3 linked regions of the Homo sapiens genome follow. The protein of the gene in region 2 interacts with the protein of the main gene of each other region in a pairwise test. Each region holds a gene or a part of one and is shown on either strand. Other genes may lie near its edges.

Region 1 (3,749 bases), on a different chromosome or scaffold from region 2:
TCCCCTCTTTCTACCATCAAATCATTAATACAGATTGAAGTGTGTACAAAAAGAATTTCAGAGGATGACTGCACACACACACACACACACACACACACACACACACACACACACAGAACAGATCACCAAACAGGAAATCAAGAGCCCTGGAAGTGAGTAGTATTGATTTGTGGTGATAAAAGTATATTTTGACACATTTCAAATCATAAATAACGCATGGACTTTAACTTGCATGACTAATAGCTCAACCCAGGATACATGCTTATCTACAACTTAAACTACCTCTTTCTAAGGAGTCCATAACATGAGGTGAATTATCCCATCGTGAGTAGACTTTTTAAAGGAAAAAATAAACTGTCTTCTTTATGACATGCAGTGTGTGGATGCTCATTTTTACAGTCTTTTCCCGTATGTTAATGAGGAAGGGCTGCATATCTGGTCAGGGTTGTTCTAGCCTTCCCTCCTCACCTCCTTCCCCCTGCTTTTAAATCTGAGACACATTGGAGACACGATCAGTTGTCAACACTAGGATAGAATGTAACCTTGCTTTCCTATGAGCTATTAGTCATTAGTCATGTATTTGCTAGGTTCAGCTGATCTGATGCTTAATCATATTTTATTCGATATTTATCTAGATGCAGGTCTTGCTATAATTAGTCACTTAGTGGTATCTGTGCCTATACTCTTTGAAGCACGGCTGATTCCTTTTAAATCCTGATGTTCGTGGTAAAGGATTAGGGAAATCTGTGTCCAGAAAAATTCACAGACATCTGAAGTTTGAAATCTTAAAGCATGGAAACTCCTGGGATTCTATTTAATTCTGTTCTTAGGTATTTGACAAAGCAGTAAGGTAATGAATGAAAAAGTAAAAGTGATGTTATAGAAAAATTGTTGAAACATTTTTTTTTCTCTGTATGTCTGTGTTCTTTAGAGGATAGTAGGAAGTCAGGGAACCACCAACATGCTTTGCATTTCTATTCTAGTAAAATATATATTAGCTTAGTGTACTGGATAAAAATAATGAGACAAATCATCACCCAGGCGTTTCCTTATTGATGAGAAATATTCCCCCTGTGTTCTCTAGGGGTTTTGTTTGAACCCATTAAATTTAAAATAATGTGATTTCAAGATTACTATGGAAATAACAAATTTAAATTTCAAAAATAGAAGTGATAAGACTGGAAGCTTCTTGTATTAAGACTAATTTGAAAAAACACGAATTTCAAGATTAAAAGTAGTAATATTGTGCTTTTTTTCTCTGTATGTATTTAATCCTTGCAGTCCAAACTTCCCTGCCGTATTAATCAGAATATTTTACCTTCATTCGTATAACTCATTTGGTTCATTATCATTTTTCAAGCATATATTATAAGGTTTTTGGAAACATTTACATTTGGTCTCACATATTCACAGAAGCAATCTGACTAAAATCTGAGATTTGTAAGTATAAGTAGCAAAATTTTAACCCAGGGGACTTTAAAATGTTTTCTTTGCACCGATTTGTATTCATTCAGTAAATGTATTACATGACTTCTGTAGGGTTCCGATGTCTAATAGCTGAGGTAACAAAGAAAATAAGTCACAGTCCTTGGAATTTACATTCTAGTAAATGTAGGTTGCTAAATTGTATTAGACTATGGTGTAGTCAGTGTCACATGCATGGCAAGAAAAGTGAATACGGGACCAATGGGGTCACCATAAAGGGAATGATAGACTGTACCAGGGTTGGGGGGTGGAGAGCTAATGAAAGCTGACACTTGAGTGAAGTATCAAAGGATGAGTAGGTTTTTTCCAGATATAGAGGCATAGGTGGGAGTTTGGGCGTAGAGCATTTCCAGAAGCAAGAGCAGCATGAGCTTAGACTTGAAGAGAAGTGTAAGAACGAAACCCTGAATTGGGTTTGTCCAGGCTTCAGCTGTGTGCAGGGTTGGGGGGTGAAGGCCACAGAGTAGGCAGGAACCTGGTCAAGAAGGACCAGCCAGCTGGCCTTGTATTTTGTGTAGAAAGTGCTGGGAAAAGAGACCATCTTCGATTTCCTATGGGAAAGAACCCTCTGGAAGGTGTGTGCAGGCAGGAGTAGAGGGTGTCAAAGCTGAGAGACCAGCTGGGAGGTTGTTTCTTGAATTCAGGATGTGGCTCACTTGGAAGCAATGTAACGACAGTGAGTGTGGAGCAGGAGGACCAGGCCGTAGGGATCTCCAACTTTGTGACCAAGTGGATATGGGAATGGAAGAGAGAACTTAGGGCTTCCAAGTTTCTGGCATGTTGATATGGTTTCGGTTTGGAAGGGATGGTTATATTGTCCAGACTAACTCACAGTAGTGTCAATTAGTGGAACTAATTTCTTAGAATTTATTTACCCTTTGTCATTTTTATCATGGGAAAAATTTAGCTATCTTTGAAGTTTAAGGAAAATTCTTTCTCTTAAACCTTTTTCTACATTTGCAACATCTGTGTCTTACTGTGCGTTTTATGTGTTCTTTAACCTTGATTTTTATTCTGAATGAAGACCATTGGTCTCAGCGGTCCCTGTGTTTGTTTTCAGGCGATATGAGTCTCATCCAGTCTGTGCTGATCTGCAGGCCAAAATTCTTCAGTGTTACCGTGAGAACACCCACCAGACCCTCAAATGCTCCGCTCTGGCCACCCAGTATATGCACTGTGTCAATCATGCCAAACAGGTAGGTGTGCCAGCCAGGCCACTGGGGGCACTGGGCAAATTGAAAACTGGATGACCTGGGGCAGTGGTAAGGACTAAATGGGCCACTGTGTGTGAAAAAGCTTTCTAAGCCCTAGTCATCATCATCAAGAATTACTGTAATGAGTTGATTAGGGCATAACTTGTGTCCGATCATTGTCAAAGAGCCCATATCTTCCTTATGTACAACTCATTTACTTGCAGAAAAAAGGATTCTACTACAATTATACTTTTTTCCACTTGCCCTGAACTTTTGTCTTCTAATAATAATGTTCCCAAGGTCATTCCTCATACTTTTAGGCCAATATTTAGAGCTAGCGAAGAGGATACAGATTAAGAGCTGGCACCTTTGGGCCCATAAGCCGTAGGTAGGCAGAGGGCCAGGTTAAAAAAAAAACAAAACACCACCGTTCAGTCACTGTCCAACGCTTCCACCAGTTGATAGAGTTCACTTAGTTGGACAGGGAAAGGGAAACCAGAGATAGCATTTTAAAAAGAATTTCCACTGCTTTTATAGACCATAGCCATATTCTTCTCTTGACCCTTCATATCAGAACAATATGATGTTCACAGGACGTGCATTTTCTCTAATTTATGTACTTTAGAAAGCTAATGATAAACCCTGAAGCAAATTATCAATTCTGGCAGGTCACATAATTGCCTATCATTTAACCAATTTAACAGTTGGATATGGTTGTTCTGAGAGGCAGAAATTGTTGGAAACGTTGATTCCTTCTGCTGACAAACTCCATAGATTTGACCTTCTAACCCAACTAAATCTAGTGTTTAAGTTACACAGCATGCCTTTCTGCAGTCTAATTTGATGTAGTTATAATAATATCACTTGGTGTAAAATTTTTATACTCTACAAATATCCGACGGGAGGGTTAGTATTATCTGGATAGCTGGAAAATAAAGTAACATTAGTGGAAAGAATATAATCAAGATTTATTAAAAGCCTATGTTGTCCTCAAAAGCCTAGTGGCTGGCAGCTTTTTTCTGTTTCTTGCTTGTAGCTGCACTTGTATAACTCTTAGTAGTATGCCAGGGA
Region 2 (3,749 bases):
AATCAGGAGGCTGAGCTTCCTGACTTCCCAACTCTGGGATTTAGAACAAGTCACTTTCCCTATTGAAACCTCTGTTTTCTTCATCTGGGAATGGGGCAGGCACTCACATAGGTTTGAGGAAGCCACAGGGCTGGTCACTCTTCACTTGTGTCCAGCGTCCCATCCACCTCCCTGGCATGACCTTGCCTCCCCCTGCAGCACTGGCCCATCTAGGGCTCCCCACACCTACATATCTGGCCCTGATGCCCCTCGCCAATCTCTGCCCCCACTGTACCAAAGATGGAGCCCCGCATGGCGACTCCTACATTGCTCTGGGGGCACAGACCTCCATCTGCCTGGAACAGCCTCCCACCTTCCTCATCAAGTCCTGTTTTCTTACAGGAAGACACCCACATGCCCCAGCCATCCCATCCCCAAGGACTGGCCAAGCAGTTCCAGCACACCCCTCGGGTGGTCTCAGTGTGTGCCCTTCTCCAGTTCCTCCGGGTCTGGGCCTGGGTCAGCCCTTTACACACACGGGGTTCCCAACAAGTAGCTTCCAGATGGCCTGGTGAGGCTGCAGGGCAAATTTCCAGGACCATGCCCCACTTCTCCACTCCATCCCCCAAGGACAAAAGCCTCCTCAATTCCGACATCCTAATCCTGCTGCCCCTGTCTCCACAGATCCTCCCCACAGAGAATCCCTGCCTATCCTGCCCAGGCCCTCTGCTTGCTTCTGCCTTCCCAGACCGGCTGCAGTGATCATTTCACCCAGCCATGGTCACTTTCACCATATTGGCCAGGCTGGTCTTGAACTCCTGACCTCGTGATCTGCCCACCTCGGCCTCCCAAAGTGCTGGGATTACAGGTGTGAGCAGCCACCGTACCTGGCTTGACTTCAAGTCTTTATTCTATTTTATTTTATCTTATTATTTTTTTCTGGAGACGGAATTTCGCTCTTGTCGCCCAGGCTGGAATGTAATGATGCGATCTTGGCTCACTGCAACTTCTGCCTCCTGGGTTCAAGCAGTTCTCCATTTCAGCCTCCCGAAAAGCTGGGATTACAGGCGTGCACCACCACACCTGGCTAAATTTTATATTATTAGTAGAGATGGGGTTTCACCATGTTGGCCAGGCCAGTCTCAAACTCCTGACCTCATGTGATCCACCCACCTTGGCCTCCCAAAGTGCTGGGATTATAGGCATGAGCCACCGAGCCTGGCCTATTTTATTTTATTATTTTATTTTATTTTTGTGCCTGGTCGCAAATTTACATTGGACTGGTTAGGCTCAAGCGTCTGGTACACACATTTTCCTTTGTCAGGTCTTGCAAATAAAACTTTGCTCCTAGGGAAGTGGTCCTTCTAAAACGGACCTTGGTTTTGGCTGCCAGATGAGAATTGCTTCCAGCAATGAAGAATGCTGTCCAAGGAGTTCAAGACCACCCGGAGAAACACAGTGAAACCTTGTCTCTAAAAGAAATTGTTTTAGGCCGGAGGCAGTGGCTCACGCCTGTAGTCCCAGCACTTTGGGAGGCCAAGGTAAGAGGATCACCTGAAGTCAGGAGTTTGAGACCAGCCTGGCCAACATGGGGAAACCCCGCCTCTACTAAAAATACAAAAATTACCCAGGTGTGGTGGCGGGCGCCTGTAATCCCAGCTACTCAGGAGGCTGAGGCAGGAGAATCACTTGAACCCGCGAGGCAGAGGTTGCAGTGAGCCGAGATCGCGCCACTGCACTCCAGCCTGGGCGACAGAGCAAGACTCCGTCTCAAAAAAAAAAAAAAAAAAAAATTGTGGGGGAGGGGTGCGGAGGTTGGAGGCGGCAGTGTCCGCTGCAACGGTTGGGGCTGCGCGTGAGAAGGTGGCGGTGTAGGCACCTGTGCTCGGGGAAGGCTGGCGGCGGCGGCCGGGCCATGGCCAGAGACCCCCTCCTCTGGGCTCCCTGAAGTCCTGGGGAGCCGTGACCCATGGGATCGTCGAGCAGCCGGGTGCTGGGCCAGCCGAGGCGAGCCCTTGCCCAGCAGGAACAGGGTGCCAGGGCCAGGGGCTCGGCCCGGAGGCCGGACACTGGAGACGATGCGGCGAGCTACGGCTTCTGTTACTGCCCGGGCAGTCACAAGCGCAAGCGGAGCAGCGGGGCCTGCCGCTACTGTGACCCGGACTCGCACAGGGAGGAGCATGAGGAGGAGGGGGACAAGCAGCAGCCGCTCCTCAACACCCCTGCAAGGAAAAAATTAAGGAGTACATCCAAATATATTTATCAAACATTATTTTTGAATGGTGAAAACAGTGACATTAAGATTTGTGCTCTAGGAGAAGAATGGCGATTACACAAAATATATTTATGTCAATCTGGCTACTTTTCTAGTATGTTCAGTGGTTCTTGGAAAGAATCCAGCATGAATATTATTGAACTGGAGATTCCTGACCAGAACATTGATGTAGACGCACTGCAGGTTGCGTTTGGTTCACTGTATCGAGATGATGTCTTGATAAAACCCAGTCGAGTTGTTGCCATTTTGGCAGCAGCTTGTATGCTGCAGCTGGATGGTTTAATACAGCAGTGTGGTGAGACAATGAAGGAAACAATTAATGTGAAAACTGTATGCGGTTATTACACATCAGTAGAGATCTATGGATTAGATTCTGTAAAGAAAAAGTGCCTTGAATGGCTTCTAAACAATTTGATGACTCACCAGAATGTTAAACTTTTTAAAGAACTCGGTATAAATGTCATGAAACAGCTCATTGGTTCCTCTAACTTATTTGTGATGCAAGTGGAGATGGATGTATACACCACTCTAAAAAAGTGGATGTTCCTTCAACTTGTGCCTTCTTGGAATGGATCTTTAAAACAGCTTTTGACAGAAACAGATGTCTGGTTTTCTAAACAGAGAAAAGATTTTGAAGGTATGGCCTTTCTTGAAACTGAACCAGGAAAACCATTTGTGTCAGTATTCAGACATTTAAGGTTACAATATATTATCAGTGACCTAGCTTCTGCAAGAATTATTGAACAAGATGGTATAGTACCTTCAGAATGGCTGTCTTCTGTGTATAAACAGCAGTGGTTTGCTATGCTGCGGGCAGAACAAGACCGTGAGGTAGGGCCTCAAGAAATCAATAAAGAAGACCTAGAGGGAAATAGCATGAGGTGTGGTAGAAAGCTTGCCAAAGATGGTGAATACTACTGGTGTTGGACGGGTTTTAACTTCGGCTTTGACCTACTTGTAATTTACACCAATGGATACATCATTTTCAAACGCAATACACTGAATCAGCCACGCAGCGGGTCTGTCAGTTTACGGCCTCGAAGGAGCATAGCATTTAGATTACGCTTGGCTTCTTTTGATAGTAGTGGAAAACTAGTATGTAGTAGAACAACTGGCTATCAAATACTTATACTTAAAAAGGATCAGGAACAAGTGGTGATGAACTTGGACAGCAGGTTTCTGACCTTCCCTTTATATATCTGCTGTAACTTCTTGTATATATCACCAGAAAAAGGAATTGAAAATAATCGTCACCCAGAAAATCCAGAAAACTGAAGATCTCATCAGTTGGAAACAGTAGCACTTTGAAAACTTTCAGGCCAGCTTTAATTTAATGGCCCTACTGATATTCACATCTAAGTTGACTAACAATGACAAAGGCCTTATGAACTGTACGGACAATACAGAAGACTATTCTTATCCTCATTGCATTTCTATGCATATACAAAAAAAATCATTTTAAAGCCAAGAAAATATCTGTCAAACCATTTCTGTC
Region 3 (3,749 bases), on a different chromosome or scaffold from region 2:
TACTATTTTTTTTTTTTCCATTTCCCCAACCAAAGGCTGCGAAGTAGCCGAGGGCTACTGTCAAGAAAGGACAGGCCGTAAAAATCACACACCAAAGCAAGTCCCCTTATTTGACAACAACAACAAAAAAGGTGGGGGGAGTGGTAGAGGGGAAGGGGTAAATAAAATGTGTGTGTTTCTTGGCGTGTTCCTTTAAGTGAGAAAAACTAGGGAATCCTGAAAATCACCAGAAGTTAAACTCCTGAAAAGGAAGGCCAGTTGGTGTTGGAGCCAACTTGGAGAGGTCCAAGTGGTTCTCGCCTCATTTGCATGAGTCAGCCAGAAAACGCCAGGACTGTGGAGGAGGACCCCACCGCAGAGCCACCCGCCAGCTCTGATCCGCCAGTCTGGTCTGCAGTTCCCCGCGGAACCTGCAGGCGGCGAGTGACCCGCCCGCCCTCTGGGCAAAGGACTGGGTTGGAAAGGGGCCAGCTTCTCACTTACTGTAAGTTTGAGATGTTCGGGTAGGAGATCCTTCAGCTGGGCGATGCACTCGTTAATCCGGTCACGTCTCTTTTTCTCGATGAGCCGGTGCGGCAATTTGTAGGTCTCCTGCAAGACGCACGGGGAGGCGGTGGGCGCTTGGGGAAGGAGATGAGAAGCCTATCCTCCCAGCCCCGCAGCAACAGTCCGGCAGAGGAGCAGAGTAGCAGAGTAGCACCCAGAACCATCGTCTGCCCTTTCTTTTCCAAGTCACTCAGAAGAGGCACCGAGCCCACACCCTGCATCCCCTCGCCAACCTCAAAGCGAGAAAACTTTTCTTGGAAACTCAGCGCGCGCGAGGGGCTGAGCGCAGGGTCCCTAGGGGTGCACTTGCTTACCTTGCTGTCCTCGCTCCGCTTTATTCCCCGTCTTGACTTGTACACTTGGTACATGTGGGCAGGGTACATCCTGCAGGAAGAGAGACCAGGAAGGGTCGTGACTGCTTGCGCACGGCTGCAGGCGTTCTGCCGGGCAAGAACCTCCCGGTGCGCCCGGAGCTGCTCCAAGTTGAGAGTGGCGCATAACATGGGGCTGCAGTTGAGGCTTGAAGGGCCAAGGAGTGCCAACTTACCCTGGTAGGTCTCCGTGCTCCAGTCCCGGTGCTTTGGGCAGGCAGGCGGGGGGTGGTTGCGCGCTGGGGATCCGCTCCATGGCGCGGCGAGCCGGGGCCACTGCGCGCTCCTGTCTGCACTAGCGGAGCGTCTGGATGAGGACTGCCCTGGAGAGGGCTTCGGGGGTCTCTCCGCAGATGTTCCTCTGAGTCTGAGCTCTTTGAAATCCCCTGGGCTGCTGGAATCTTCGGCTTTGAGATGCAGCTTCAGTTGGGGGCGTGCATGGCCCGGTGTCCCCGCGGCCTCTGGCTCCGACTCAGCGCACAGACTGGCGGTGTGTGCTCCCTGCGCGGTCTGTCTGCGCCGTGCGAGCCAAGTGAATGAGAAGTGGGGCGGGCGGGGAGGCGGGAGGGAGCGGGTGAGGGGGGGGCGGTTAGGGCGGAGTGGGGGGGTGGGGGGGCAAGCCGAGGAGTAATGGAGAGGCTGCGGGCTGGGTTAAATGGGAGCGAGTGGGTGGGTTGGAGCTACGTGTTCTACCCTGTGACTCCAGGCACGTCTGGCCACTGCCGGGGAGGGAAGGAGCGACCTGCCCGCCCTCCCCCGGCTTCATCACATGAGTCTCACGTGTTGGACAACGCTCCGGCGGCTGCTAGGGAGCCCCCACCCCCAGCCCCGGCCCCCAGGTGTCTGCGGCTGCGGCCGCCTTTCCCCGAAGAGGGGGTGGCAGCACGACCTGGGTCCTGCCCAGTTGGGTGGGGGGCGCGGAAGCTGGAAGGGACGGGGGTGCTGGGGGAGGGGGAGAAGTTGGTAACGTGGGCGAACCTGCCCCAGGGAAATGAAGTAAGTTCCCGTCTCCTGGGAGGGAACGGGGGAGGACGGATCCGCCCGCGTCTGACTCAAGCCGGGAGAGGAATATCCCCTTGCTAGCTCCAGCCCAGCCCTCTTCCTCCTCCCCCGCCCGGCCCGCTTGGAGGAACCGGCGCGCTGCGGAGGGAGTCGCCCGGCCCCCCAGCCTTCCCCAGAGGCTGGGGTTTCTTTCCGTCCTGGCTTCCCTGCCCCCACTGCTCACCCTCGCGTCCAGGAATTGCCCGCCTTGGGGAGGGACCGAGGGGCGGGGCGGATGTCACCCCATGGGAAGCGGGCCGACGGCCAAGCGCAGGGGCAGCTGAGGCTGCCGCCGAGCACGCCGCGCGCACCTGACCGTGGAGGGTGTGAGCCGAGGGCCCCTCGCTCCCAGGAGCTCCGCTCCTGGGCACAACCTGCGGGCGGGCGGGCACCCGGTTGCGCAGCCCCCTGGGTGCCCCAGTGTCACCCCCTTCCTCCCGGCCAGTCAAGCGCAGAAAGATACCGGGCGCTGTGCCCGGCGCTCCCTCCCTCCTCTGCCCCCTCCGGAGCAGAGGCGCCCCGGTCGCCTCCCCTCCGGCTGCAGCGTTACACAACCGCGGCGGCGGCGCCTGCCCTGCAGCAGCGCAGGGCGTGACGCTTCACGTGGCCGGGCTCAGGTCGTAGCACCGCGGACCGCGAGCCTCTCTGCGTTGACCCAGGGACTGAGACCCCGGGGACGTGGCGTGCCAGCCCGGATCGGCCCTCTCCCTGCCTGTTGGGAAGTTCGGCGGCGCTGTTCGCGGTCTGCACCCAGGGCAGGAGGGATGAGAGAGACAAGAAAAAAAAACCGCCTGTTACAGGGAAATCTTAGCAATCATGCGGTCGACACGTATTTCTTGAGCCCCCTGCTCTGCACTAGGCGCTGCACTAGTTGATGAATCCGACACGGATCCTGCCCTTGAACTTGCAGAACCTCTAGGAAGAGGTTAAATTGAGCAATAAAGGAAAGGCAGCCCTGGGAAAATTGTATCGAGGCCACTGGCTGACAGAGGGGAAAAACAATGAGAACTTGTGTTGCTTTGTGTTTTGTTTTTAATTTCATTGTAACCGAGATGCCTAGGTAGAGAAGCGGGGGAGAAGCTAACCCAAAGCCCCAAGCCCGGGGCGGAAGGACCTCCTCCAGCGGCCCCAGATCTCTGCAATCTCACTTAGGCTGCCGGAGGGCCCCACCCACCTCCCCCGGAAAGGTCCGGGCTCTGTGACCTTCTCACTCAGCCGGGAGCAGGGAAAACAGCTGAAACTCCAATCCCGCGGTGTGAGCAGCGCTGATACAGTCAGAGGAGGGAGCCAGTGGAAACTCATGACTAAAATAAGGCCTGGCTGGGGATTTCACTGACCTCTGCGCTCCCCTGCCCTGCAAGTTCGGGGAGTTGAGAGATGACTGTAAGCCCTTCCCACTGCGCTTCGGGTCAGTCACCCCACTGCTGAGTGACCTGGCTGTGGGAAGGATTGAAAAAAAAATGGGGTCACTGCCGAGACTGGGCGAAGAGTAGTAGCCTCGGGTGCAGTTAGGGGATCAGTCTTAACTGGCAGTGCCCTTGACGACCTAGAGAACTGGCATTCACAAGTTGACCAAACTGGCAGTGTATTTCCTTCAGGTCGCCTTGGAGAGCTCCCGCTTCCTGTTTATATTTCACAAGCGTCAAACTCTTTAGCAAGTGTGAGAAATGCCTCCTTTTCTAACTGCTAACTGGCATGACCTCACTTCGGGGCTCAGAGATCCCTCCCTGCCAGAATGTACTTTTGCTGGCCAAAGGCGGGGACCGGGGTCCGCCCTGGAAACGCGCTTTC

What was found.
Region 1: the proteins of GMCL2 (region 2) and CHCHD3 interact in binary tests that used the Homo sapiens proteins (3 or more experiments, as listed by UniProt).
Region 3: the proteins of GMCL2 (region 2) and BHLHE40 interact in binary tests that used the Homo sapiens proteins (3 or more experiments, as listed by UniProt).

Annotation. Positions count from the first base shown.
Region 1 is NC_000007.14:132,795,374-132,799,122, reverse strand, and holds part of CHCHD3 (MICOS complex subunit MIC19), read left to right. Parts: intron 1-2,545; coding exon 2,546-2,681; intron 2,682-3,749. UniProt on the Homo sapiens protein: Component of the MICOS complex, a large protein complex of the mitochondrial inner membrane that plays crucial roles in the maintenance of crista junctions, inner membrane architecture, and formation of contact sites to the outer membrane.
Region 2 is NC_000005.10:178,185,499-178,189,247, reverse strand, and holds the start of GMCL2 (germ cell-less protein-like 2), read left to right. Parts: upstream 1-1,876; 5' UTR 1,877-1,948; coding exon 1,949-3,529; 3' UTR 3,530-3,749. UniProt on the Homo sapiens protein: Possible function in spermatogenesis. Probable substrate-specific adapter of an E3 ubiquitin-protein ligase complex which mediates the ubiquitination and subsequent proteasomal degradation of target proteins.
Region 3 is NC_000003.12:4,977,143-4,980,891, reverse strand, and holds the start of BHLHE40 (class E basic helix-loop-helix protein 40), read right to left. Parts: upstream 1,456-3,749; 5' UTR 1,174-1,455; coding exon 1,094-1,173; exon of another isoform or gene 931-1,093; coding exon 861-930; intron 592-860; coding exon 484-591; intron 1-483. UniProt on the Homo sapiens protein: Transcriptional repressor involved in the regulation of the circadian rhythm by negatively regulating the activity of the clock genes and clock-controlled genes.